Homo sapiens: one gene and its partner. The protein of the gene in region 2 purifies or fractionates together with the protein of the main gene of each other region. This does not show direct contact. Each region holds a gene or a part of one and is shown on either strand. Other genes may lie near its edges. The genes, in order: DNAJA4 and HPSE.

Region 1 (15,309 bases), on a different chromosome or scaffold from region 2:
AGGCACATGCAGCCATGTCCGATCCACGGATGTGCTTTTATTCTTTAAGAGGATCATCTAGAATCCTCAGAAATGTTATCTTAGCAGCCCTGAGATCATGCCCTCAATAACTCTGCCAAGGGAAGAGGGGAGAAACCACAGACCTAGAGATGAGTCAGGATGCCCACTTTGTGCCTTGGGGTTTGCTAGGGGGGCTAAGCTGCTAACTGGGCTGTGCCTTATTGGTGACACTGAATTATGGCAAAGCCACTAGAAGCACAAAGTATTGGTGCAATCACTGACATCTCAAAAGTATATCCTGAAAATAGAAATGAACAGATTCCATATGCAGACTAGAGGTGATTTATACTTAAAACATTTAAATATAAATTAAGCTATAACTTAAGTTACAACCAAAAGAAAAGCCAAAAAGACACTCAGCAATTAAGAATGCTGAACACATACACAGGACATCCCAAACACAAGGCCATTAAAGCGATGTCATTTTCATTGTGCCAACTTTACATTCATCATGTGCTAGTCCGGTGGGGCCACGCTGCCCCGCACCACGTCATGCCGTCTGGCACTGCACTCCAGCCTGGGGCCCGTCTTCGTCCTCCTCGTAGGCCTCCCTGTGCTGACGCCAGTTCTGCTCATTGGGACAAAACTCCTTCAGCTCCACCTGATCCATGTCATCTGTAATCCTCACTTTCTGTCGAGGAGGGAGTAAAGCTTCCAGCTGAGGAAGCTTTTCCAGAGAAAGCCAGTGTTTTTCAGGAAAGATTACCTGTAAAGGGTGAGGTGGGAAAGAAAGGTGGCTGTTTTTTCCCCTTCCAATTAAGGCATTTAATAATATGTCCATGACAATGAAACATAGTGAACTTACTAAAAACTGTATGATCAGAATCCCTTTTTCCAGGGGTGCTTTGTAGATGGGCATTCCTTCATCGCGCACGCATCTCAGGTCCCCGTGCTTTATCACCTCACCTGCCAGAGAAAGGGTCAATTAGGAAGGAGGAAGGCAGAGGGGCCTGCAGAGGTCGTTCTCCCTCATGGGAGAGCCTGCGGCAGGCCCTAGTGCCCCGTGGCAGTGGGCAAAGGAAACGTGGCATCTGACTGGAAAGCTGGCCCCAATCCCAGGTATCCTTGTCAGGTACTGCCTGGGGAAGGGGCTCAGGCTGAGACTCTGGCCTGTGCTCTGGGCTCCAGCAGTGTGTCAAGAGGGCAGCATGGTGCAGCTGCCATCACAGGTAGGTTTAAAACAAGTGAACTAGAAGTCATGACACCCAAGTCTGCCTAAAATGGGGCCAACACCTGTCACCCTGCCTCTTTGTGGGGTGACAGGTATCCCTACCACGAGGGGGACAGGAGTGCTCCCCACAGACAGGAAGAAGCCTCAATAGAGTCCAACCAGTCCCCTGCCTGGCATAAAAACTGGCTCTTGGCCACCTGCAGGTGACACCCAGGTTCCTTGGTAGGGAGCTCACTAGGTGGCTTGGCCACTGGCAGACTCCTTCATGGTCACAATGCACTTCCATACATGCTGCTGAGCTGGAGTCACCCTCCCGGCTGGCACCCGCTGGGTCTTACAGCTACGTGACTTTGGAAGGCATCAGAGGAGTTCAGACCCCAAGAACTCTAAGGCGTTCTCCCAAGTCAGAAACTTCCCTCTAAGCATGGAAAAGGAAAGGGACAAAAGGGTTTCTGATAAAGCATGCTCTTCAGCTCAGCGATGAAAATGGACAAAGACAGAAAGAAATGTTCGGAAAAAATGGGGGAGACGGTGGAGGGGAATGGAAACACTAATTTCTTCAGCAGTCCACTTCCATACGGGACTATGTAGAAAGTGAGCTGTCTCTTCAAGAGGAAATCTTTAAAGAGGAGGTTTTAAAAATAAAGTAAGCCAATGACTATCCTTGAGATTCATTCGCAGGCAGGGCTGTGGTTCAGACATGGCCTTCAGAGCCTACTGACTGTGCAGGACAGCAACCCCTTAGCTAAACTGCTCCAGGCTGCTGGCTTTTTGTGTTCCTGTTTATTCTTTTTTTTTGAAATACAGTCATGGCCAGGCACGGTGGCTCACGCCTGTAATCCCAGCACTTTGGGAGGCCGAGGCGGGCGGATCACGAGGTCAGGAGTTCGAGACCAGGTTGATCAACATAGTGAAACCCCGTCTCTACTAAAAAAAAAAAAAAAAAAAAAAAATAGAAAAACTAGCCAGGAATGGTGGTGTGTGCCTGTAATCCCAGCTACTTGGGAGGCTGAGGCAGGAGAATGGCGTGAACCCGGGAAGCAGAGTGTACAGTGAGCCAAGATCACGCCATTGCACTCCAGCCTGGGCGACAGAGCGAGACTCCGTCTCAAAAAAAAAAGAAATACAGTCATGCACAGCATAGTGACCTTTCAGTCAACAACATTTATGAAGATGGTTGCAAAGATTACACCAAACTTTTACTGCACCTTTCCTATGTTCAGATACTCACATACTCAGCATCGTACTACAACTGCCCACAGTATTCAGTACAGCAACCTGCTGTGCAGGTTTTAGCCCAGGAGCAACAGGCTATGCCACACAGCCTAGGGTGTAGCAGGCTATGCTATCTAGGTCTGTGTGAGTACATTCTATGGTGTTCACACCACAACGACATCGCCAAACAATGCATCTCTCAGAACATATCCCCTTCGTTAAGTTACATATGACTGGTTTTTCTGTCTCCCCATTCCTATCAGGTGTCGCTTCTTGCTGCTCTCAAGCCCTACTCCCCATGCTTCTGCTTCTAGCTTGCTGGGAGCTGGGAAACTGACCAAGCATGGAAAACTACAGGTAAGAGAAGAAGACCACGAGTTAGGCTCTCCCGGCAGGTAAATACCTGCCTGCAGGCAGGGCCATCACACCCTTGTGTGGCTCCAAAATCACTTTTTTAATTAATCCAATCCTCAGCAATGCTCATAACAGGCTAAAAGGCTCTGGGGAAGAAGGCATTTCAACAGCAGAAAAGAGGAAGAAGAGGGAGAAGAGAAAATGGAGAAACAAGAAATAAGCCAACACAAAAGAGGGGTGAAGAAAAGAGAGGGTGCAAAAGAGAACAAAGTAAAAACAAAAACAAAACAAAAAGGACAAACAAATCCCCAAAGAACTCTCCAACGGCAGGTTTCCTGGATGCTCCACCCTTCCTTATAATAAAGAAGGAAATGGATTTCTTGGGATTTGCCACTTCCTTCCCTCTGGGGCTCTTTCTCCACCACCCTCACTCCATTTGGCTCCCGGCTCCCTAGGCTGGGGTCAGCTGAGACAGCAAGGAACGCTGGCTCTTGGTGGGGCCCAGGACCTCAAATAGTCCACCCCTGGACAGGACAGGCTTTCCCAAAGAAGTTACACACAGATGCTTCCCAGCCCCGGCTCAGGAGGGCTAGGATCTGGGCTGTGACCACGTAAGGGCATCTTGGACACAATGCCAGGGTGTTGAGCTCACAACCAGTGGTCTGGAGCTTCGTGTAAACTGTGATCCTCAAACTCCTCCTTGAGGGAGGAAATGGGTGCCTTGGGAGGTCTATGGAAGCCTAAGGGAAGGTGTTTTATTTTAAATTTTCATGCAAATTTTGCATTATACTGCAGTGCTTCCCCCAATCCTGGATTAAGTATATGTATAAAAACACACACAAGTCTGGGCAACATGGCGAAACCCCGTCTCTACAAAAAGTACAAACATTAGATGGGCGTGGTGGCATGTGGCTGTCCCAGCTACTCGGGAGGCTGAGGTGGAGGTTACAGCGAGCTGAGATCACGCCACTGCACTCCAGCCTGGGCGACAGAGCAAGACCCCTGTCTCAAAAAATAAATGAACAAATTTTAAAAATAAATAAAAACAGACACAGATCAAATGACAAACCAAATGGGGTAAAATGTTAACATCAGACAAATCATATATGGATGGGCCTCGGACTATTTTTATATTTACAACTTCTTGTAAGCTTGAAATTGTTTCCAAATAAGTTTATTTTAAAACTCCACAAACCGATCAAGGCTTGGATATATAATTCTGCTTCCTACTATCCCCAGGAAAGGAGGAACCTGAAAGAATCCAAGAGAGGAAAGAGAAAAAGAGCACAAGGCTGGGAAGAGAAAAGCAGACAAGGAGGGGAAGGGGGAGAGGGACACGGAGGGAACAGAAGTCCAGGCCTCAGTCACCCCACCAGACTTGAGTCTTATCTCCAGCTGCCACTGCCCTGGGGGCAGGCTTATTGGTGGTTACCTCCCTGCCTGCCCTGAACCTACCCCTTTTGCACCAAACCTCAAATGGCCATAGAAAAAGGTAATCCCAGCCCCACGGCCAGTGAGGGGACTACAGCAACACTGCAAATGGCTGGTGCTGGGGCCCAGGCTGCTTCGGTGGCGTAGCCGCCACCACACCCATCCAGACATTCTTTGCTATGCACAGCTGACCTTAGTGCTATTCAGAAGCAGCTTCAAGTCAAGGTCCCTGGCCTGGCCTCTCTCCCTTCTCAGCCCCTTCTAGGCAGGTGCTCTGGTGCCCACACAAACCCTCAACTACAGTGAACACACCAACCCTCCTGGGAGATGAGTGCCCTGGTGTCTACAGGGGGGTTGGGGGCTGAGCTCAGGCCTCAGGAACCCTTTCGGCCTAGAGGCATCTCCCTCTGGCTCCCATGGGTGTGTGCAGACCAGCAATTCCTGTGGAAACCTCCAAGGATAAACTGATAGGCAAAGTCTTTCTTACAGGAAAATTCTATTTTAAAATGTAACTCATGTAATGAACAACAGAGGCTACAGGAACATGTGGATGAATCAGCACAAATCACCACTTGATAGAAAAACACCACCTATTAAGCTGTTTTCTTATACAAAAATAAATTTTTAAAAACTTAAGTTTAATTGCCAGAATTCATCTAAAATTCAGAGCCCCAAGATTCTTATTTGAGACTTTCCCCCCAACTGAATATTTTTTCTAGGAGAATATACAAGAACTTTATAAATTATCCAGAGTTATTAGGGACAGTTTTAAATTTAGAGAAAATCACATCATACTAATTTGTGTAACAGAATTTGACCTTAAATGTGAAATCAGGGGAACTATTCCCAACACAAAGAAATAAATACTCAAGGCGACAGATGCCCTAAACACGTGGCTTGATCATTACCCATTTTATGCAAGGGACAAAGTATCACATGCACCCCATCAATATGTAAAATATTATGTAGCAATAAAAAAATCAGGCTAACTTGCCAGAATTATTATGCCAAACATACAGAACATCAATGGAAACACACTTTGAAACATTACCTGCTTTGGATGTAATAACAAGAATTCGATTGTCCAATGTTTTTATCGTCTTCTTGAAGCCACAAAGAGCTTCAGAAAGCTGAATTTTCATTTTCATGATCAAGTCATGGCCTCGTCTCTGAAAGACACTATGATCCTTCTGATCAAGCACAATTATGACATCACCAGGCTCCAGCTCAGGCTCCTGATCTCCTTCTCCATGAAATAGTATCTTTTGCCCATCTTTCATACCTATGAAACATCATCCCTTTCTGATTAGCCATTTCTCATACAAACCATGCTTCCTTAAAGCTTTTGAAGAAGGAACAGAGTCCTTCAGGGATTCTTTATTCATCAAGTCTCCCAACCTCATGCAGGCACAAGGCAGGGAGGGGTGGCTAGGATGGCCAATGACAGAAGAGGTCCCGCTTCCCTTGGCATAATGTGGGGCCAAGCCCAGCATGCACAGGGAGTGGGGGAATGCGGCTCTACATCCCAGGTTTACACAGCACTCCCTGCCCAGGGCCTGTGATGCCACACCACCAGCATAGGGTCACCGCCCACTTCCCGGGGCACAGGGTGCATGACTTGGGACTGATAGGGACAGGTCAGCCAGCCCTGTCCTTTTCTAATAAGTCAGCTTGCACACTCAAGGCACAGGGTTTAGGCATGTTTAAACAGTAAGTCCTTTAATAACACCTGTGTCGGTTTGGCTGTTGATTCTTTTACTTTTGGTCTCATCTCTGATCTAGGATATATTTACTGGATTGGAAAGCCACAGAATCATCGGAATACTTGGAGGACAGCTAAAATGGAAAAAGGCCTTAAAATGATGGCATCAGGCAAAATGAATAGCAGGAGAAGGTGCTGTATTTGGGGGAATCTGATGCAGCACATGGGGAAATGTGGAGAAAGGGAACATGCAGCCACAAACACTTACACAAGCCCTTATGGCCAATGAGCATCAGAAGCGACCAGGAAGACACTCCGAAAGATTCTAGAGGAATGGCTTGAGAATGTCAGGAGATGGCAACTAACCCAAACCAAGGCCAGGTAAGACTTTCAGAGCGTTAGAAAACCTCATAAAGAGGCTGTCTGTGATCTCAAGGAAGTAAACCTCAGCAAGAACACTTTGGCAGGTGACATGGAATGGAAATAAGGCCAGGAAGGGTGAAGAGAAGACTGGGAAACAAGAGGAATTCATGGCACACCCAATACATGTTGTGATACAGCTCACTTCCCTGACATCTAGTCTGTGTATCTCACGATTAGCACCCAGACAGCATTTCCAGCCCGTGTGGAGCACCAGCTCTGCGCAGCCTCACCTTTTTCAACATGTACCTCGATAATCTTCTTCTCACGGATCACCTTGGCCCCGCTGCAGCTCTCGCAGCGGTCCTTGGGGTTGATGCGCTCACCCTGGCCCTTGCACTCGATGCACACGGTCTGGATCTGCTGTACCATGCCCGGCCCGATCTGCTGGATGTGGATCTGCATCCCCCGCCCCTTGCACAGCGGGCACTTCTCCACCGATCCCTTCTTCCCACCAACACCTGCAGGGTCAGGGGAGGCAGGAATGAGGGCCATGCTCTTCCCTTACCAGTGTCCCTGCTGGGCGCCATGGCAGAAGGGTAGGGAACCCTCACATTGGACAATGGGCTTAGAATTCTATTTACAATAATAAAAAACAATGCAGAAGAGTCTGGAGGAGTCCAGCCAAGCAGACAACATCCAGATGTTAACATCTGACCTCAAACGTTTGTGATTTTGGCTGCACCAATCCAAATTTATTACTTTAGCTTCATCAAATGTGTTTTCTTCCACCCCAGGTGGAACTCGCATAGGCCCACAGATGAATGAGGAGGCTGGGGCTGTGGCGATCTAGACAACACAAGCTCTGTCAATAGTGGCAGCTACCCAGCTCAGCCAATTCTCTCTGTGGGACAATGTGAGGCTGGGGTCACCAGACATGGCTTTTCTTGAAAACTCAGGTTTTTTAAAAATTACAATAATTATATATACATTTAAGTCAGGGGTCAAGAAACCATGGCCAGACTGCTTGGTTTTGTAAATAAAGCTTTACTGGAACATAGGCATGTCCATTCATTTATGTACTATGACGGCAGAGTGAACTAGCTACAAAAGACTCCATGGCCTGGAAAGCCTAAAATCTGGCTCTTTACAGAAAAAGTCTGCCAACCCCTAGATGAGGTCAAGTGTCTGATTTTTAATTTTTAAAAATAATTGTCTGTATACATATGTAACAAACCTGCACGTTGTGCACATGCACCCTAAAACTTAGAGTATAATAAAAATAAAAAATACAAAAACATAAAAAGAAATAATTGTCAACATGTCAAATAGAGGTGCAGCCCAAAGAAAACATTCATTCAGGCAAAGAAGTGTGGCCCTCAGGCCACCTGTTTGTAATCTCTGCTTGACCCTTGCATTTGAAAAAAGATAACTTATTTTCCCTGAACTATAAAACAAGCATTGTTTCTGAATCTAAGGGATCAGAACTGTGCGGTTCAGTCAAAAATTAATTTTTACCTTCACATTTCTCACAAATTACATTTTTCTGGAGGGCCAATTTCTTCGTGACTCCATTATATAGATCTTCAAGAGTTACAGATAACTGGTGTACAACATTCTTGCCTTAGCAAGGGAGAAAAAAAATTAGTGGCGTTGAATGAAATATACCATTGTATTAAATACCACCCATATGACCCTTAGTTGTATGAAGTCTCCAGAGACTCAAGACTGTGGCTGGGTCATGCGCTCCCTTCCCTGCAGGAAGCAATGCTTCTATTACCCCAGCCCATCCTTCTGGCCCTCAGCCAATAACAAGAGCTAATACCCTCTCTAGCTATGAGCTAATTATTCAATCATTTATAGAGGCCAACAAAAAGACTTTCCACCTTTATTTTCTGAGAACAAATCTGAGGACAAGGAGAGTACTAATTGAGAAACCAAAGGCAGTATTAACCCACGAAATTGGTTAAGTTTCCCCATGAAAGGAGTCCTTTCTATACATAAATGTTTGGCAGCCAAAGTCTCTGGATCTTTCACTTCCTTGGGCATAAAGCACTTTACTTTCTGAGCCCTTCTGTAACCGGTGGCCAAATGGGAATTCTTTCCTCTGCCAAAATCTTGCTTCTGCAACTCAGGACAGTGGGTGTTCAGTCCACAGGGTGGGGGTGTGCTCCAGCACCTGCCAGCCTGTCAAGACTGACAGCATCAAGACCCTCCCTGCTGCCCGTGGAGCTCCTGCAGTCACTGAGATGAGCTGTCCTGGTTTACTGGCTGCCAACTTTGAGAGATGACTTAATTAAGGGCATGAAGTTTTTCATCTCAAGACAGTGAGGGAGCTGGACAAGAGAATACCCAAGGTTTTTTTTGTTTTGTTTTGTTTTTGAGACAGAGTCTTGCTCTGTCCCCAGGCTGGAGTGCAGTGGTGCGATCTTGGCTCACTGCAAGCTCCGCCTCCTGGGTTCACGCCATTCTCCTGCCTCAGCCTCCCGAGTAGCTGGGACTACAGGCGCCTGCCACCGCGCCCACCTAAGTTTTTGTATTTTTTAGTAGAGACGGGGTTTCACCATGTTAGCCAGGATGGTCTCGATCTCCTGACCTCGTGATCCACCCACCTCGGCCTCCCAAAGTACCCAAGGTTTTATCATGTCCACACCATCAATTATAGGAGCAGGCGATATGCTCAAAGGACAGAGGAAGGATTTTTCCCTAATAAACACTTTGTGATTTTCAGCACTCTATGTTCACAGAATTGACACCCAAGCTTTTTCAAGCTCAAAGTCAATTACAATGTGATAACAAGTGCAGCTTCATTTATCTAGGGGCCTCTCACTGACCAAAGCCACACTTCTTAAACCCCAAGGCAGAGCTCATTTCTTCTGACTTTATCCAGAATTGTAATACGCTTGGTTATCTTTCTGGTTTCAAGATCCAAAGCAGCCTGACAACAGTAAACTAAACAGGGGGAATGGGAACTAGTCTATTAGCAACTACTAACAACAGAGGTGACAGCCCGTAGCCTGGCAGAGGTGAGATGCAGAAAAATTAGGAAGAACAAATCCCGAGAAAGTCAAAACAGTGGCCTGGGGCCATTGAGCTAAGGGCTAAGAAGTTCCTCATTCACCTCCTGGGGATGAAGTTGCTACTACTCATAATGCATTCTGAAAAGAAAGGCAGGTCATTTATAAAGATTTCAAAACATAAAGAGATGAATTTTGTTGCCTAGAAAATCCCCTGAGCAGGCTGGGAAATGAGGCCATACTGAACATGGCAAGAGTACCCACCTAGAATTAGAGAGCCTGCAGCCCACGCCCAGGTCAGGGAACATGGAGGGCCACAAAGGGAGGGTGGGCAAGAGGAGAGAGGAACACTCTCGGTAAAGGATCACTGACAACCACAGGCGGCGTCATCTACATCCCTCAGCACACTCTGGTGCCTGACCCCAACAACAGAGGAAAAGAAGGCACGATGAACTTCACCTTCCTCTTTTCTATCCACCACTCCATTCGCTACTTCATATGGTATTGGAGGGTGTCAGATAATTACTAAATTTACCAAGAGTTTCCAGGTAGCCTGAGCACTAGACAAGTGATAAACTCTTTAAAGTTAATGATCTCAAAACATGGCAATTGTACCTGGTGGGGTTTTTTGTTTGTTTGTTTGTTTGTTTGAGACAGGGTCTCACCCTGCCGTGCAGGCTGGAGAGCTCACTGCAGCCTCGACTTCCTGGGCTCAAGTTTTCCTCCAGCCTCAGCATCTCAAGAAGTAGCGGAGACTACAGGCATGAGTCACCATGCCTGGCTAAGTTTTTTATTTTTATTTTTTTTGAGATGGGGAGTATCACTATGTTGCCCCGGTTGGTCTTGAAATCCTGGCCTAAAACAATTCTCCCACCTTGGCCTCCCAAAGTGCTGAAATTACAGACATGAACCACCGCGCCTGGCCCAATCATATCCTTTTAAAGCATGATCTATCCTGATTCCAACAACACGTATAATTGTGGAAACCATACAACTTATTTATGTTTCTTTAAAAGCATTTACCTCTTCTCTCTCTAGCCATCCGTCCACCACCACCAAAGAACATGTCAAAGATGTCCATGGGTGAAGAGAAGCTGGGGCTGCCTGAGCCTCCTTCTTTAATTGCCTGCTCTCCGCCTTGGTCATAAACATCCCTTTTCTTTGGATCTGAAAGCACTTCATATGCCTGGGATATGAGTTTAAACTTTAAAAGAGAGAGAGAGAGAGATTTTTAGAGAAGTTTCAGTTGTTTTGTTAAGCAAACCTGCCATATAAACATACAAAGTAATAGAGGTATTCTGCCCCCAAACCCTTGAACTAGCCAGTCTATACATCCTCTACCTGGAATCTGACTTGCCTGTCTACCTACTCCTTTGGTAAAGTGGGAAACACAGGGCAAACATATTAAGGGACTGGTGGTAGGGACACGATAAGAATAAGGGAGAGAAGCCAGTAGAGAGGGAAAGTTTCTCACTAATCCGGCTGCACCAGACAGGAAGTCGAGACCAGCTAGGATACCATGAGACAGTGCCAGGGGTGAACCTCTAACCAGATAGAGCCAGGACTCTGGGCATTACCACTGGCTCACCTCCTCATGGGAATCATTTCACTAGTTTACTAGAATGAAATTCAACTACAGGCATCTGTGAGCATCTAACCACGTGCCAGACATTGGATACAAACCTATACTCCTGATCCTCCCCCAAAAGCCCCGCCCCACCCATAGTCTTCCCCATATCACAGTTATTGGCAATGCCAATCTCACCTGTCAACAAATCCCACTGATGCTACCTTCACATTTGCATCTCCAGTACCCTAAGACAGACACAATATCCCATGTGTAGCATTCCTGCCAAAAAGTTACCACTGGAACCCAATTGTACGAAAAGAATCAGAAAACCCAAATTGAGAGATACTCTAAAATTAAAAGATAGAAAAAAACGAATACAATGTGTGATCCTGGATCAGATCCTGCACAGGGGAGAAAAAAAAAAATGGCTACAAAGGACATTATTGGAACAATGGGAGAAATGTGAATCTTTGTTCCCAATGTTAAACTTCTTGAATTTGATAACTTTACTATGGTTATGTACAAGGATGTCCTTGTGCCCAAGAGAAACACGCAGCACTTAGGGCTGAAAGGTTATGCTATAGGTAGCTTCCTCCCAAAATCTTTAGCCAACAGTAATAATAATAATAGATAAAACAAATGTGACAACTTATTTATAACTGGTAAAGCTAGGTGAAGAATACATAGGTGTTCATTGTATCACTCATGTTTTCTGCAGGTATATGGACATTTTTAAAATAAAATCAGAATGCGAAAACATGCAAGATCTGTTCCTTCTTACCACACCACATCCACTCTGGCTGAAGGCACCATCTCAGGCCTGGACCACTGCAGTGGCCTCCTCCGTGGTCTTCCATGTGCCCTCCTCACCCCAGCTTTCAGTGTGTTCTCCACTCGAGCCCACTAATTGGGTCGATCCTCTGCTCAAACCTCTACAAGGTGGCCCACGTCACTGGGAGTAAAAGCCAGTCCTAACTTTCATCTATAAGCCCAACTTGGCACCTGTACTTTCCTCTCCTCCTGTGTGTCCCCACCCCAATTCTATGCCAGTTTCAGCAGGCTCCCTGCTGTTCCTCAACTCTGCAGTCTGGGCCTCAGAGGCACCTCAGCCTGGTGCGGCCTCCCGACTCATCTCTTTCCAGCCTTAGCTCACAGACCACCTTCTCAGGGATGCCTCCTGGTGATCCAGCTTTAACACTGCAAACCCACCTCAGACCCTCCCAGCCCCCACAACTGCTGCATATTTCTCCATATCATGAACCACCTTCTAACAAGCTGCATCATCTACTGCTTATGCTGTAGCCCCCACTGCAACATAAGCTCCATGAAGATGGGGGGTTTTGTCCACTGCTGTCTAACTGAGCCTGGAACCATGCCTGGCATGTAGAAGGCACTTGGTAAATACCTGTTAGATGAATGGCTCGATTCTGGGAACTCAGAAATAAATAAATGAGGTAGGATCTTGGCCCTCCAGAGGCTACAGTTTAGTCGGAGAGACAAATATGGATATATAGATAAACAGATCCTATAATGCAGCTGGCTCCAAAAAATATTCAGGGAAAAAAAGTGCCATGAAATAAGGAATTTGAGAGAGAGAACAAGGGAATTTGAGGCATTAATTCCCTTGTTCTACAGATCCCTGATTGAAATCTAATAAGTAACCAATAATAATAGCTAATAAATAGCTAAAAAACTACAATTTAGAAAAGTCTTAAAAAGACATCAGCATCATATATAAGGCAGCTAGATCTTTTGATATGTTAATTCTCATACCATTTCTGCGAAGAAGTAAGTACCATTCACTACTATCCCTTTCCTCAGCAGAAAACATGAGGTAGAGTGTAAGGATTGGGTGCCTGGTACAGATCAGAAAGCAACTAGGCCAGGCTGCCCCTAGACAGTTTCTGCGTCTATCTGCAGGTCAGGACTAGGTAAATAACTTCATGGGAACGTCCACCGGAAACACTCACCAAATACCCTGGATACTCACATGTCATTTAGACTTAATAGAATGATCTAAGAATGGAAAAGGAGTACCCAGTTGCTTGGGACATTCAGTCAGAGGCCAGATCTCACATGGGATGGGGGTTCCAACTACCAGTAGGGAGTCCATCCTCTAGGGTCCCAGCACTCCAAAGTCTAATTCAGCTCCCGGCCCGGACCCCCTTCTCCCAGTGGGAGACGAGTGCTATGATGAGCTTGCCTTTCAGACCATGATCATTTGCCACAGAACCTTAACAGGATTACTATACAGCTGAGGGGAAAATGGCTTTGAAGACTACGTAACAACTTGGGAAAAGTACTTATAATAAAATATTAAGTGGAAACAAGAAAACAAAATGTCTATGTATCAGGATGGCCATGTATGATCATACTGGGGAAAGCTTGGAAAGAAGCACAGAGTGGTTAGGATAATGTGTACTTGGTAGGTTTCCCTCTGTGTTCTAAAATTTTCTGCATGGTTTGCTATGTTCTGATTTTTGAACTTGAAAGTCTATTATTCAAACTAAAAGTTACAATGAAATTGACCAAAAGACCAAACTCATCTCAACAGGGTAATAGCCAAGAATATACCCCACATCATTGCCCCTAAAAGGGACTATCTTGGTGACCCACTACCTACCACCCATGCATCTTGCAAAAAAAACAAAAAACAAAAAAAAAACACCCGCAGAGAAGTACAGACTCCATACAGAGTGCCCAAAAAACACAAGGTGCCCCAATGCTTAGCAACAGGGGACAACAGGGCAAAAAACAAAGACCAACATTTCAACGGCCTTCTCAGTTTTCCCAGCAAGGGGTAAAGAACTGGTGTAGTCTATTTTTGAAGAGACGTTAATAATACAGTGACGAACTTAGGAGGAAAAAAAAATTTAAAGGTTCTACCTGTGATAAAGTGGAAAAGAACTACACACACATACACACTCACATACACACTCACACACACACTCACACACTCACACACTCACATACACACTCACACACACACTCACATACACACTCACAAAAGGCCTGCACAGTGCACCCAGCACACAGTGGGGACCAGAAGAGGAGGTATTTGTTGAATGAATGAATGAATGAATGAATGAGCTCTCTCTGGGGAACTCTACAGCCGTTTCTATAAATTGTGTCCCCAGTCTCCTCATCCTCTTTGATTTCCGATCTAAATTGCCACTCTCCTCCCAATATCCCTTTCACTGCAATTTCCCTTCCAATTTGTGCCTTTATAGGGCCCTCTCCTCCTACACACAATTTTTTAAAGTGCATTTACTCAGCCAGCTAACAAACATTTTAGCACCTACCCTGCACAGCTAGATACTCACCCCATAAGTGGCCATGGGGGCACAGTCACTGCCCTGCTTACATTATGGCAGGTAATACAGTTATCAAACAAGTAATCACCATTAAAGGAATACAGTTAATCAAACAAGTAATCACCATTAAAGTAGGATGCACGTTGGGCCTGTGGTTCAGTCTATGAGGCAGAGGCAGCCTCCTGGAAGATGTTTTAGCTGAGAACTAAAGAGTTTTATCCCCTTCCATGAAGGTAGAGGAAGGAAAGTATTCCTGGCAATGGGCACATCACAGAACCCTTCCCTCCAAGCTGATGGGCCTGCCAGACCTCACTGCCAAGGGCCTCATTTATGTGACACTAACTCAGTGCCTGGCTATGAATAAATATTAGTTTAAAACAAACCAAACAACCTGCCCAGACAGGTATAGACAGGGTGAAACCTACACATATGTAGTACAGGTCAAGTCTAATTTTTTAAAAATAAAAGCTTCAGAACAAAAGCATATTCAGCTCTAACTGTATACACAGAGGCATGAACTTACTCTTGTGAGTGCTGAGATTTGACCTGAATCCAGGGTCAGGCTTTCCCACATGTCTTTAGCCAGCTTGCTGAAATGTGAAATTAGAAGCCTACAAGCTCTCCTTAAAGGAGACTGTCAGAAGCGGACCACAATGAATGTAGGGAGCAGGTGGATGAATCACCAGCACCATGTAAAACGCCAGTGCCTTTAAAAGCTACAGTAAGCCATCTAAATATAGATGAGAAAGAACGCAAGTGAGTAACAGACAAATGGTCTTACAGGAAAGCATTTTAAACTTGTGACAGCCACATTCAGCACATGTGGCTAAATATAAATATTCCATCACTGTTGCCATTCAGCCAACCGTCCTGAAGTAGCTTTCTCCAGCTTGGAACAACTAACACAGACAGGTATTTTGATTCCAGCGTCGTTTCCACAGGTCTTAAATGCTACATGGGTGATTGGTGTGGTTTCAAACGTGGCCCAAGTGACACTGCTATCAGCTACTATAACGGCCCCACCTCTCAAGACCCATGCGGAACAACCAAAGTTTTGTAAGAAAATGGCAAGAAGTGAAAGGAGGAACGGGAGGGTTAGCAGCCTTTCCTTGCAA
Region 2 (15,165 bases):
AATTTAAGTAATTTCTGGAAGTGGGTGAGACCACCCAGGGGAATATGTGAAGTGAAAAGAAGGCCTAGGTCAGAAGTCTGAAGAACACCAATGTTTAAGACAAACTAGAGAGAGAGAGATGGAGAGGAATTGTTAGAAAACACCCCCCAACAAGAAAGGCGACAGACCTAAAGGGGTAAGAAAGTGCTTCCATTGTCAACCTTGCCAAATGCCTCCAAGAGACTGTATTAGTTTGTTAGGGCTGCAGTCGCAGAGTACTGCAAACTAATTGGTTTGAACAACAGAAATGTATTGTCTTACAGTTTTGAAAAGCCGAAACGTTGAATTCAAGGTAGTGGCAGGGCCATACTCCCTCTCTAGGCGCAGGAAAGGATTTGTTCCAGGTCTTTCTCCTAAGTTCCCATAGCTTTTTGACTCCAACTCCATAACTCCTGTCATCACATGGTATTCTCCCTATGTGCGTGTCTGTCTCCAAATTTCTCCTTGTTATAAGGACATCAGTCATATTAGATAAGCAGCCCATCACATTCCAGTATGACCTCATCCTAACTAATAACGTCTGCAATGACCCTATTCCCAAATAAAGTCACATTCTGAGGTACTGGGGGTTAGGACTTCTAATATGGATTTCGGGGTAACCTCATTCAACCCATAACAAAGACCAAATAAGATAAAGTGTTTATTAGGTTTCCCAACAAAGGAAGGCCATTGATGATGTCGGAGAGATTGATTTTAGTGACACAATGATGGTGCCATCATGAGGGCAGAACAGGAAGAACAGGCTGCCGAGGGGAGGGAAGAAACGGGGTGGTTTCTGCAGAGGCATGTGCGAGGAGGTAATTGAGATGGGAAAGGCTTGGGGAAAGGCTTGGGGAAAGGCTTGAGGAAGAAGCCAGTAAAATGGGAGGAGTTGAAGATACAGGAGAGGGAAGAGGTGACTGATAGAGCGAAGTCCTTGGGGGTTGGGGAGGGGACGGGATTCAGGGCAGAAATGGAAGAAGCAGACTGAGATCAGAGAAAGGAGGAAAGCTGGACTTAGGCATGACATGTCTGCAGATTTGATGACAGGAGGAAAAGGAAAAGGAAGTAATTGCTCATTTTCTTTGGGAAGCAGAAGTATGGTCATGTGCTAAGAATGATAAGGTGAAGGTGGAGTCAGAGATTTTTAAAAAGTAGAGAATGTGAAAGGCAGAGAAATGGAGAGTTAAGGGTAACACTAAGGGCCAGGGAAGTCTGGAAGCTAAAAAATGTTTGGTGCAACATCAGTCTGTGTGGCTGGGAGACTGTCCACTCCCTCCTCCCGCAAGAGCTCAATAGCCCAGCTATACAGGGTGGCCACTGAGACTGGAAATGAAGCATTAAAATGGCTTATTAATATACATTAAAATTAATAAGTAATATTTTTCCATTTCCAGGTTTTTGGGCCACCCTGTAGATTCCAAAGAGAGAAAATATGGTTGGACTAAACCAGGTTTAGTATTTTAGCAGGAAGAACAATGGAACAGGGATTTGGGGTTATTATTACAAGAGTGGTTCACATGATAAATTAAGAAGCTCAAATCAGATATGGAAGAAGTAGAGAGAGGAAGAAGCTGTTCAGTGGAGGTATTTAAAAATTGTTATGATGGGTGCTATGGAGTAGAAGAGCTATGGTCTGGCTCTCAGAAAAAAAGGTGCTCTGCTTTTTAGTATTTGCCAATTTCCATGGTAAATATTCTCACCATGGCTGATTTCCAGATACCCACAGGATGTCACTGAATACAGAGTTGAGATGAAATGCATACATTTCATGAGCTGGATAAGCTGGTTCTGTTACAACTTGAGTGTAACATTATCTGTTATAAAAAAATGTGAGTGAAGAAACTGAGACAGTTTATCTAGGTGACTTGAAGTCATCTAGGATGATGGTGAGACTAGGAAGTGGAGAGGAAACTGTGAGATCAGTGCCAGTCTTCAGTTAATAAGGGGGAGTAAGTAAGAGGGGGACAGAGTGCCGTAAGCAGGAGCACTGGATGAGAGCCAGATGTGGAGATGAGGAAAACACACTGAGTCATGGCATCACCCGTAATGCACATCAGGCTAGTCTACACTGAGCGTGTAGGGAAGCTACCCGCCTTCTTTCACTCAATTTCAAAATAACCCACTGAAGCAAATGGCATTATTATCGTCATTTTACAAACAAGGAACCTGAACAAAAGGAGGTAATTTGCCCAAGGTAACAAGTCAAAAGGGACTTGAACTATAGCAGTATGGAGTTCAAACTAGTGGGCTGTCATCCAGAAGCCAGACTGGAGAACAGGAAAAGAACTGGACTATGGGAGAATATGCAGCCATTACTCAAAAGGGCTACAGGGAAGACAGTGTCATCAGAGAATAGCCAAGTTGTAGCTTGGACAAGGAGGTAGAGGAGATATTCTGTGAGGAGGACAGAGCAGGTAACCCTGCAAAGGGCTCCAGGGCACAGTGGACAGGGTTAGTGGGGAAGGCAATAATAAGAGCTCAATCAGAGGGACAGCACTTCCCAGGAGTTAGGAGACATGAGGTGTGTGATTGTCCCCAGCCCTTTGTTTCCCTTTGGCTGTGAATATTTCTGCCATCAATAGGCACATGGGGAGTCTGCACCTCTTTCCAACACTGGTTATCAAAACGTGTGTTTAACATTGATAAGTAATTTTCTAAATGTGAAAAGCAACTCTGTCTATGAAGATGCAAGAATCTAATATTGAAAGTTTTTATCAGTAAATATTTATTGAATTGGCAAAAATGGATGAACTTTGCTGAAGGAAAATAAGCAAATTGCAATGAAAAGCAAGCATGGTTGCATTATCACTGAGATTGCTGTTCGTACCACTTTTGCTCTGCAGTATTTAGGATTTCTACCACCGACTCAGCACTATACTTTTTTTTACCGTGCATTAGTGAACTATGCTTGTATACGTGTCTTAATTGAAATGCAGATCTGTACTGTCCACTACCATAGCACTAGCTACATGTGGCTACTGAACGCTTGAAATATAGTTAATCTGAGGCCGGGTGCAGTGGCTCACGCCTGTAATCCCAACACTTTGGGAGGCCGAGGTGGGCATATCACCTGAGCTCAGGAGTTTGAGATTAGCCTGGCCAACATGGTGAAACCCTGTCTCTACTAAAAATACACAATTAGCCAGGCGTGGTGGTGCATGCCTCTAGTCCCAGCTACTTGGGAGACTGAGGCAGGAGAATAACTTGAACCCGGGAGGCGGAGGTTGCAGTGAGCCGAGGTAACGCCATTGTACTCTAGCTTGGGTGACAAGAGCAAAATTGTCTCGGAAAAAAAAAAGAAAGAAAGAAATATAGTCTGAGAAGTGCTGTAAATAATACACGCCAGATTATAGAATAGACTTGGTTTGAGAAAAGGAATAATAAATACCTCATTAATATTTTTATATTGATTACATGCTGAGAAAACATTTTGGATCTATTGAACTAAATAAAATTATTAAAATTAATTTCACTTGTTTCTTTTTACCTTTTTAATATGGCTACTAGAAAATTTAAAATTACATATGACCTTGCATATGAGGCCCACATTATATTATATTTCCATTGGACAGTGTTGATTTAGGGCTGGGCTCTCTTTGGAGTTCTGCACACAGTTAGGCTTAGGAAGTATTTTGATTGGTTTCTTGATTAAGTCCCTCTGGGAAGACGACAAATTGAAAGATTTTTTCTTTCAAATTTTAGATTGCTCTATCATTGGTATTTAAGTTTTGTGTGGAGTTGGGCTGTACACAATGTATTTGCCATCATGGAGACTAGAACCACGCCAGTGACTAAGTTTGCTTAGGCCTCTTTGAAGTACCTTAGATGAAGGTTTGGGCCCTGATACTGTTACTCTCATGTGAATGCTTCTTTTCATTATATCAATCTCTCAATTCCTTTCCAAACAATCTTTTTCTACCATATCCTACTCTCTTTCCTTTAAAAAATATAATCTGCTTTCCCTTTTTATGGGCACTATTATCTCATGTGATCAGAGTCTAGTTTCAAACTGTGGCCAAGTTACTTAACCTCCCTGAGCCTCACTTTCTTCATTTTTAAAATGGGGGTGACAAAACTAGTCACTCACAGTGTTGTAGCCAAGACTAAATGGATTAATACCTAGAAGGTGCTTAGAACAGGGCCAGGCAAATGACAAGAACTGAGGAAGTGTCAGCTGTTTGTGTCCTCCTCTCTTTCCTTATTCCTTCAGCTTTCGTCTGCTCAGCTCTTGCCATCCCGCCCACACATCTTCACTTTTGAGGAACTGTAATAAATTAAACAACAGGCGTCTTACTCTCCTCTACTGTGGACCCCTACAAAGCTTAGTGTTGTCTTCTGAGATGGCTGGGCTGTTTGGGCCCTGTGCCCCTCCTGGGGAGATGGACCCTCACACTCTAATTTAGAAGCTAGGTCTTAGATGAGGAGAGGGGGTTCCTCCCTCTTTTAGGTCTTAGCAGATAACACTCTGGGTGTGCTTGTCGATGCGTCTGGGGAGCAGGTATGGCAGATGGCCTCTCCAAGCGAAGCGGGCTGGAACAGACAGCAGCCAGCCTTGGAGAGAAGCACGTATGGACAAGAATGAACTGTTTTGTAAACCAGAAAAAAAGTTTTATGTATCACATGTTATGCTCTCTTGGTATTTCATTATACTCCAGTCTTTAACAAAAAGGTGCAGAGGAGGGGAAAAAAGGGTGCTCTGGGAAATGAAGAGATGTATTTAAGAAGAATAAAGGTATCATCCTCACTAAATTGCAGATTGGAATTTCTACGTGTTAGGGGGGTGTTAGTCAATTGCGGGGAGCTTGACTGCTGGGTGATCAGGCCCAGATCCTGGAAGTCCCACTGTATGTTTTTTCTTTTGGACCTGTTACTCCAGGGGGGAACCCCCATCTGTCCTTTCTTGGGGAGAGGTTGGGGAATATGCTGGCTACAGCAATAGAAGAGGCCTCAGGTCCTCACATTTCAGTAAATGGACATCTACTTCATACCCATGTTCAGTAACCGCCCCCCCCCACCCCACACCCCAGCAAGCTAAGACTGGGGTCCTGTGATCTGGAGCCCTATGGTTCAGCATTTCTCTGGAACAATCTTCCTATCCCCCAACTAGTTGCTGCCTAGTATCAGCTTCCTATCCTTAAGGGGAAGGGCAGAAAGTAAGGATTCTTCCCCACCAGAAAATTGTAGTGCCAGAAGGAAAAGGAGAGGTTAACTATGATCCAAAGAAACAGAAAACCGGTGAATGGCTACCAAATGCTCACCATGTCCTAGAAAGAAACAATTCGTTTGAAACGTCAAACACTTACTATGGGTCAAACACTGAGAAGCTCTTACCATATCATCAAATCCTCGGGCAATAATCCTTGAGGCAAGCTTGAGAAATTCCATTCTACAGCTGAAGAAATCAAGGTTGGTGTGGCCAAGAGATATGGAAAAACCAAGTCACTCATCTTTGCCAGAGCTGAGAGTCAAGCCAGGATGGTCTGTCCATCTCTTAACCAGTACACTACCCATTAAATTAGCGCTGGCAACTATAGTGTGGGCTCAGGGAGGACAGCATCTAGGTATTTGACACAGAGGTGAGATAATGGTGATCTTTCCCTCTATCTGGGCTGGTCAAGATGTGGCCATCTCTGGAGGCTCCCAGGGCCTAAATAAGAGGCCTAGAAGACCTGGGATTGTCCCTGTAGCTCCCCATCTTGGAGTCAGCCTGCATTCATGGGGCAGGAGCCCTGAACCTGCATCAGGTTCCTTCTTTCTCAGGTAAGGAAAAAACTTAGAGCTGATAAGGCAGCACCACATTTTGCAGCCCCATTTTGGAGAGACATCTTTTTATTAGGACTTTGTAAGTCACTGCAGTAGTCTCCTAGGTCTCATTTATTGAATATTTAGATTTTTATTCCTGTTCTGTGACGCCCTTTTCATCTGCCTAAAAAAAAAAAAAGAAAAGAAAAAAGAAAAAGAAAAGAAAAGAAAGAGAAATCTTCCTAACACAGTCTTAAATACAGAAGGCTATGCACAATCTTACTTGTCCTACACTGCACAGCAAATCAAGCACTCACAGGCCTTCAGGTGCACCTGCCTGGTTTCCCTCCTCTTGGCTAGGGAAGTACTGGGGCAAGTGGGCAGTTTCTTTTTCAAATTTCCACTTATACCTGACCTTAGGTGGTGCCTATTCAACACTTACAGAATGAATGAAACAAAAAGGCTCATTTAGAGTGGGCGCTAAACAATGTGTACACATGGACTTAGTGGAATAGTAGACACTGGAGACTCCAAAAGGTGGGAGGGTGGGAGAGGGATGAGGGATGAGAAATTACCTATTAGATACAATGTACAACATTCGGGTGACAGTTACACTAAGAGCCCAGATGCCACCACAATGCAATATACCCATGGAACAGAACTGCACTTGTAACCCCTAAATCTATTTTTTAAATGATACCCCCCAAAAAGCAGTTTGGGGTCTGAGAGTAAGGGAGGGAGAGGGAGAATGAGAGGCGGGAAGTGGGGTGGGGAGAGACAGGCGGGGAGGTTCCGGTGTGAAGTTGTTTCCGCGCAAAAGAAGGAGAGCGGCTGGCGGGGCAGACATAGGTGTCAGGAGGACAGGAAAGGGGACAGGACCAGGAGGCTGGCGCTTACCCCAGGAGGATGAGGAACCGCGGGTCCGTGGCCAGGTTGGCGTCAATGGTGACGGACAGGAACGAGGGGCTCACCAGGTGCAGCGGCTCCTGGGTGAAGAAGTCCAGGTCCACGACGTCCTGTGCTTGCGCAGGTCGGGGCAGGGCGCCAGGGGAGAGGGGACCCAGCGGCCCCAGGAGCAGCAGCATCAGCGGCGGCGGCAGCGCAGGCTTCGAGCGCAGCAGCATCTTGGGCTCACCTGGCTGCTCCCCCCGCCAGCTGCCGCGCAGCGGAGAGTCGAGAGCTCTAGCACTTCCTCCCGCCGAGCCCCAGCGCCCTTTTCTCCTTTCCTCCGCCCCGTTACGCCTCCTCACCCCTCCCACTGCGCCCTCCATCCCTCCCACTCCTCTTCTGCATCCCTCCCACTGCTCCCAATCCAACCCCGCCCCGCCTGCCCGGCTCTCTCCTACTTCCTTGCTCGCTTTCCCCTCGGTGGCGGTCACGTTCACTTACGAAATCACCCACACCCACTTGAAGGGTGCGGAGATGGCCGGGATCCAAGCGCCCGGGAGGCCTGGGGAGGAGCGCCCGGGGAGGAGCGCCCGGGGAGCAGCGCTGGGCATCCCGGACCAGGCTTCCTGACGCACGTGTTCTGCGCGCTCTCGTGGGAACCCAGCGTTTCCGACTCCCAGATCCCATTCTGATGGCGCCGGGTATCCCTCTGACCCTCGAGTAAAACCTCCAATGGAGTATTCATCCCTTCCTCTCCCATCTAGCTTATAAACACTTGCTTGTCACTTGAGCCAGCCAAAATCTGATTGTCCTCTGGCCAGGCAGTTTCTCAGGTATTTTACTTTTGCTTGAAAAAATCTGGCCTCAGCATACGCTAAACTGCAGCTGGAAAGAGATCAACCACCCAAAATTCTTTATCAACTTCTCATTAAGACAATATTTAGCAATCTTAAAGGGTTAGTTGCTCCAATGTCTGGAACTCAGGACCTGAAGCCCCCATACAAAGTGTAGAGTACGGACTGCCCCTGAATTTGGAGCCTTTGCCAAATTTCTCCTCTGCGCATTTATCTTTCGCTGTTGGTCAGACTTTTCTTCAGCTTTTCCTTGATGCTTACACTGATGTATAATCATAGCAAGCATCGCACGCTTAGTGCCTACTGTATGCCTGATACAGGTGCTTTACTTGTGTTCTCTTCCCTTCTCACAACCCTGCCAAGTGCATACTGTCCTTGTTTTACACATGCGGACCCAAGCTCTGAGACAGTAACTGGGTGAAGTGTCAGAATCGGGATGTGAAGTGTCAGAATCGGGATGTGAATGCAGTTACAAAACCTCGAGCAGATGGCAGTGTGTTTCAGCTGAAATGTAACTTCCCTCAAGGAAGCTTTCTCTCAATCTCCAGGCAGCTCTCCATGACACACTCTCATAGCATCCTCAATTTGTTAGACACTCTCGTAGCATCCTCAATTTGTTAGACACTCTCGTAGCATCCTCAATTTGTTAGTATTGTGATGTTGCTCAACATTGGCTTCATCTACTAGATTATATGCTCCACCAAAACAGAGATTAAGTTTGTCTCACACGCTATGCTAGCCATAGCTCAGGCATGTGATCATGTTGGTGCTTAGTAAGAGTCTAATAAATATTGGTTGAGTAAGCAAATAACACCAAAACCCTTAGATTTTTCCACTTGAGATTGTACCACCAATAAGGCAACAAATAAAAATAGATTATTTTGAAATGCATATCTAATTTGCATAAATCAGGCCAGGCATGGTATGTGATGCCAGTGATGCCATCATGCCTGTGATGCCAGCATTTTGGGAGGCCAAGGTGGGAGGATTGCTTGAGCCGAGGAATTCAAGAACAGCCTGGGCAACATGATGAAACCCCATCTCTACAAAAAATACAAAAAATTAGCCAGGCGTGGTGGCCCGTGCCTGTGGTTCCAGCTACTGGGGAGGCTGAGGTGGGAGGTTTATTTGAGCCTGGGAGGTGGAGGTTGCAGTGACCCTTAATCACACCACTGCACTCCAGCCTGGGTGACAAAGTGAGACCCTCTCTTAAAATAATAATAATAATTATCATTATTTGCATAGATCTACCTATTCTTAAGCAACTTAAAAGCTAAGCTCATAGTGAGTTTTGCAACTAGAATCAGGTTCATATCCTACAATTACTGTATACATATGAAAAAAAATTCACACATAAACACCACACTACCAGAAGAGTGTAATAATATGGTAGCAGACGTGGAGTTGGAAAAACAGAAGTTTCTTTTCCACATTTGTCATGACATTAATCTTACACCCCACCCCATGCCCCTGACTCCTGTTGTGAGTCAACAGTCATACCAATTTCTTTCTTTTTTTTTTTTTTTGAGACGGAGTCTCGCTCTGTCGCCCAGGCTGGAGTGCAGTGGCACCATCTCGGCTCACTGCAAGCTCTGCCTCCTGGATTCACGCCATTCTCCTGCCTCAGCCTCCCGAGTAGCTGGGACTACAGGGGCCTGCCATCACCCCCGGCTAATTGTTTTGTATTTTTAGTAGAGATGGGATTTCACCATGTCTGTCAGGATGGTCTCAATCTCCTGACCTCGTGATCTGCCCGTCTCAGCCTCACAAAATGCTAGGATTGCAGGCATGAGCCACTGTGCCATGCCCAGTCATACCAATTTCTTTAACATGTTTGGGTGATTTGAAAAGTGGACCATTGCAAGTTTTCTAAATAGTGCATCCTTGTGGTCTACATGTGAGTTACTAATATGGAAACGGGGGGCCGGGTGTGATGGCTCACACCTGTAATCCCAGCACTTTGGGAGGCCAAGGCGGGTGGATCACTAGAGCCCAAGAGTTCAAGACCAGCCTGGGCAACATGGTGTAGCCAGGAGTGGTGGCGCAGACCTATAATCCAAGCTACTCAGGAGGCTGATGCATAAGAATTGCATGGGAGGCAGAGATTGCAGTGAGCCAAGATCATGCCGCTGCACAATGGGAGACAGAGCAAGACCCTGTCAAAAAAAAAAGAAAAAAAAGAAAAAGAAAAGAAACTGGGAAAACAAAAACGAGGGGGCAGAGAAGCAATTTGCACACATGATGATCTGTTGGCTGAGATCTTGCTCCTGCTTCTAATTTGGTTTGATTTACAATGTCTGATAAGGATGTATGATATGGATACATAGGAAGGAGGAACATATAGGAATATTAATAGGAACTATCATTTCAGAGATATTTTATAATAAGACACCTTAATTTTTATAGCAAGTTACAGCTACATACATCCTAGCTAGAGCCCTTTTTCATACATCTTAGCCCTGCAGCTTGATGGGATGTACAATCTTGGGCCAGATCGTCAATTTCCAAGAGCCTCAATTTCTTCATCTATATAGTAGGGGTAATAATACATATTTCATAAGATTTTTTTTTTTTGAAACAGGGTCTCACTCTGTCACCCAGGTTGGAATACAGTGATGTGATCTTGGCTCACTGAAACCTCCACCTCCACACTCAAGCAATCCTCCCACCTCAGCCTCCCAAGTAGCTGGGACCACAGGTGTGCCCCACCATGCCCTGTTAATTTTTTGCATTTTTGGTAGAGATGGGGTTCCTCCATGTTGCCCAGGCTGGTCTCAAATTGCTGAGCTCAGAGATCCACCCACTTATGCTTCCCAAAGTGCTGGGATTATAGGCATGAGCCACCATGCCTGGCCCATAGTCTTTTTTTAAAGAATTAATTGACAATAATGTAACACAGCTAGCTCCATCTACAATGTGAGGTATGTGTTTAACAGATGAGAGATTATTTTTTAAAAAATTATTACCCCCACTTAATCTTTGCAATAACCTTGTAAAGTAGATTTACAGCTTTCTGATTCCAAGCCCAGAGTTTTTCCACTACCTCACGCAGATTTAGGGACTCACAAATTATGTGATGAAAATGATTTAGAAATAAAAAACTTTAAATGAACTAGAAAGTTTATGTGAACGCTTTATTAATTATGGGGCTGGGTGCAGTGGCTCACACCTGTAATCCCAGTGCTTTGGGAGGCTGAGGAGGGAGAATCGCTTGGGCCCAGGAGTTTGAAACCAGCCAGGGCAACATAGCAAGATCCCATCTCTAAAAAAAAAAAAAATGTTTTTTAATTAGCTGGATGTGGTGGCATGCACTTGTAGTACCAGCTACTTCACAGGCTAAGGTGGGAAGCTTGCTTGAGCCCAGGAGATAGAGACTGCAGTGAGCCATGATCATGCCACTGCACTCCAGCCTGGACAACAATGTGAGACTCTGTCTCAAAAAATATTAATAAATAAAAAATAAATGCATAAAAATACAAAAAATAATTATCATGTGATCTCATTTCCATGTGGTCTGTGGATTGATTTTCAGTACTGGCATTGGGTTTTTAGGGATTCACACAAGGTTTACCTGGTCAACAATTACAAACACTTGTAAAACAACAGACTGATTTCAGGATATTTTCAGAAAATGATAATCTTATCACTTGTCTGTTTAGAAAATTAAGACTTTTCTAATGTAGAAATCTCTGAATGTGGGCAAACTTTTAGGCATTTGTAGTTATCTCCGGGCAAATAAATAGTTACAAATGTGTTGTTTTGAGTTATTGGGTTATGACTTTCTAAAGTTAAGTTTTGCTTTTAATTATTTGCCAATCAAACTGTATTTCAAAGCAAGGAGAAATTAAGAGAAAATTTTTGCTGAATGGTGAAAGGAAGGAAGTTAACATCTATTGCATGCATGGTGTTCTACAATGTGCTTTCACATATTCGTTTATTCATCTATTCATTCAAGTAGTTATTGGGCACCTACTATGTACCAAGCACTGAGCTAGGCAACTGTAAGCAGCAAGCAGGGATTGTTCCTGTGCTCTGAAGTCTTACTGGGGAAGTAGAAGGTATTTTAAAAATCACAGGATGGTGGTGGCTCACGCCTGTAATCTCACTGCTGAGGCAAGTGGATCACTTGACTCCAAGAGTTCAAGACCAGCGTTAGCAACATAGTGAAACCCCGTATCTTCCCAAAATACAAAAAATTAGCTGGCATGGTGGCATGTGCCTGTGGTCCCAGCTACTCAGGAGGCTAAGTCAGGAGTATTGCTTGAGCCCGAGAGGCAGAGTTTGCAGTGACCCAAGATTGCGCCATTGCACTCCAGCCTAGGCAACAGAGACAGACTCTGTTTCAAAATAATAATAATAATAATAATAATAATAATAATAATAATAATAATGAATTTAAAAATATCACGCAAAAGTGAAATTGCAAGTGTGGTAGGTGCTCCAAAGGTGATCATGGTGCTTTACGTGTGTATGAGGTAGAATTTCGATTTGGGGGGAGGGGCCATTGAGGATGTGACACTTAAGATCTGAAAGATGAGTAGACAACTAGGTAGAGGGAAATCATTCAAGGCTAGGGGAATGGCCTGTGGAAAGGTCCTGTGGTGTGTGAGAGCATGGATAGTGAGGGGACTGAGAGAAGGCTGGGGTGTCTGGATTAGAGAGAGCAAGGGGACAGCTGAGGATGTAGGAACAAACATTGCTGAGCCTTGCAATATTTTTAGAGCAATGAGAAGCCATTGAAAGGGCTTCAAGCCTGGGGTGGGTGCTGTGATAGGATCAGATTAATGTTTAATTAAATTAAATTAAATTATTTATTTATTTGAGACAGGCTCTTACTTTGTCACCCAGGCTGGAATACAGTGTCATGATCTCAGCTCACTGCAACCTCCACCTCTCGAGAGGAAATGATCCTCCTGCCACAGCCTCCAGAGTAGCTGCAACCACAGGCATATGCCACCATACCTGGCTAATTTTTGTGTTTTTTGTAGAGACATGGTCTTGCCATGTTGCCCAGGCTGGTCTTGAACTCCTGGACTCAAGCAATCCACCCACCTTGGCTTCCCAAAGTACTAGGATTACAGGTGTGAGCCATCATACTCTGCCTCAGATTCATATTTTAAAAGGGTAAACTATAAATGTTCTGTTTCCTCTGCTATACAGATGCCTGTTCATAGAACATGGATGTGCATTTCTCTATAGATATAGAGTCTCTATTTTTTAAATTATGCTTTTATGTATATATATATATATATATATACCTACATACACATGTATACACATAAGCTTATACACACACAATTAATATTTATTTCTCTCTGTGCCTGTGGGCAACTGGGTACTGGGAATCAGCAAGTGAACTAGAGGATGACAGAGAAAGCAGGAAGCATCCCTAGAGCAAGAACTAATAAACTCAGTGACCACACACTCTAACCAGATAGATTATTATCCTGTAGGCTGAGGGGTTATTCAAAAGTCCCTAAAGAGCTGACTGCCCGAGTTTGGTCACCTGTCTCTGGCATATGAAGGCCCTGCAAGATGTTAATTATACTCATTCCAAAAAAAGCATAATCAAGTGAATTGAGGGGGACATTGTTTATGTTGCTCTCAGGCTCTGTAAATGGTATATACAGTATAAACACAGGGCATATGTGTGTATGGAAAACTCTCTCTCTAACCATGCTTTTTCCTCTACTCTCAAACCACAACAATCATCAACATAAGACCACTTCTGTGACCACAGGTGTGTGTGGTTTTTCCCCCACACACCAAGCAGCAGACACCAGCTGGGTGTTCTTTAATTCAGTTCTGACACTATCTACCCGGAGATAGTGTCAGATTCCACAAGTTGAGAGCTCAGTCCCCAAGACTGCCTCCCCCTTCCACACTAGTCACAGGTCTGGGCCTCTGAAACTTCTTACCAACATGCTTCAAGTTGGGGCTTCCATGGCCCCCTTTTTGGATTTGACTAATTTGCTGAAGTGGCTCACAGGACTCAGGAAAACACTTACTTATATTTATTGGTTTATTCAACCCTTCCTCTCCCATCTAGCTTATAAACACTTGCTTGTCACTTGAGCCAGCCAAAATCTGATTGTCCTCTGGCCAGGCATTTTCTCAGGTATTTTACTTTTGCTTGAAAATATCTGGCCTCAGCATACGCTAAACTGCAGCTAGAAAGAGATCAACCACCAAAATTCTTTATCAACTTCTCATGAAGACAATATTTAGCAATCTTAAAGTGTTATTGGTTTATTATAAAGGATATTACAAAGGATACAGGTGAAGAGACGTGAAGGGGTCAGAGCTTCCATGCCCTCCCTGAGTGCCACCTCCAGGAACCCTCACACATTTAGCTATCTGAAAGCTCCCTGAACGCAGTCCTCTTGGGTTTTTATGGAAACTTTATGATGTCAGCATTCCCTCCCCCAAGGTATACCACAGGAGTCTCTCTGGAGAGGGTCTTAACACCCACAATCAGAAAGGCAGAATGTATTAGTCCATTCTCACTCTGCTATAAAGAAATACCTAAGAATGAAAAAGAAAATAAAAGGAAAAAGAAATACCTGAGACTCAGTAATTTATAAAGAAATGAGGTTTAATTGTCTCATGGTTCTGTAGGCTGTACAGGAAGCATAGCAACATCAGCTTCTGGGGAGGACTCAGGGAACTTACCATCATGGCAGAAGGCAAAGAGGGAGCGAGGCACTTCACATGGCCAGAGTAGGAGGAAGAGAGAGACTGGTGAAGGGATATAGACTTTTAAATAACAAGATCTCAGGAGAACTCACTCACTTTCATGAGAACAGCACTGAGGGGATCATGATAACCCACTCATAAGAAAGTGCCCCGGTGATCCAATCACCTCCCACCAGCCACTACCTCCAACACTGGGGATTACAATCTGACCTGAGATTTGGGTGGGGACATAGACCCAAACCATATTATGAAACATTAGGGTCCTTCCTTGGGTCAGGTGAAAGGAGGGCAGGAGAAGGTCAGAGGCCTGCCCCTGAGGCCTAACGCACCCAACATTATGACAAAAGACTCTAAGAGGGGCTATCAGAGTTATGAGCCAGGAACCATGATTGAAAACCAATATATATCATAATATCACAGCACAGAAGGAAGAACTCTACCAAGTGCGTTGAACATAAAGAAGTGGTTGGGGTGGGTAGATTGGGAGAAAGTGTCTCATCCTGATATTATATGTAGACTACACTTCTGCTATGTGCTTGGCTTTTGGCCAGATGTCAGTATTTTGGCTCTCTCAAGAAACATGTGCTTCGAAGTAGGGCAAAAATACTTTCTGTTTTGTGGACTCCAAATAAGGAGTCAATAAGCGAAGTGGACTGTGTAGGAAACACTCCTTGTGAAAGATCTCCTTTATCACTGGTGACTAAGGCCTTGTAATGGCTACCCTTTGCATCCAGATTCAGCCAAGGTGCATGTTGGAGTGACCAAAGAACTGGATAGACAATTGCTTTTACAACTTTAATTGAATTGTTGATTCAGGCATTGTTATGGTTTGAATGTGTCCTCCAAAAAGCACATGTTGAAATTTAATAGCCATTGTAACTATTAGGAGGTGGGACCTTTAAGAGATGATTAGACTATTAATCGATTAATGCTGTTATTGTAGGAGTGGACTTGTTAGAAAAGA

Evidence for each region.
Region 1: the proteins of HPSE (region 2) and DNAJA4 purify together in Homo sapiens (affinity purification with mass spectrometry; 2 studies listed by BioGRID and IntAct, with this or other methods). This does not show direct contact.

What each region holds. Positions count from the first base shown.
Region 1 is NC_000015.10:78,265,702-78,281,010, reverse strand, and holds part of DNAJA4 (dnaJ homolog subfamily A member 4), read right to left. Parts: intron 14,794-15,309; exon of another isoform or gene 14,769-14,793; coding exon of another isoform or gene 14,718-14,768; exon of another isoform or gene 11,076-14,717; intron 10,515-11,075; coding exon 10,334-10,514; intron 7,917-10,333; coding exon 7,812-7,916; intron 7,354-7,811; exon of another isoform or gene 6,815-7,353; coding exon 6,587-6,814; exon of another isoform or gene 5,911-6,586; intron 5,514-5,910; coding exon 5,283-5,513; intron 2,804-5,282; exon of another isoform or gene 2,211-2,803; intron 967-2,210; coding exon 866-966; intron 767-865; coding exon 551-766; 3' UTR 1-550.
Region 2 is NC_000004.12:83,327,896-83,343,060, forward strand, and holds the start of HPSE (heparanase isoform 1 preproprotein), read right to left. Parts: upstream 6,954-15,165; 5' UTR 6,888-6,953; coding exon 6,661-6,887; intron 1-6,660. UniProt on the Homo sapiens protein: Endoglycosidase that cleaves heparan sulfate proteoglycans (HSPGs) into heparan sulfate side chains and core proteoglycans. Participates in extracellular matrix (ECM) degradation and remodeling.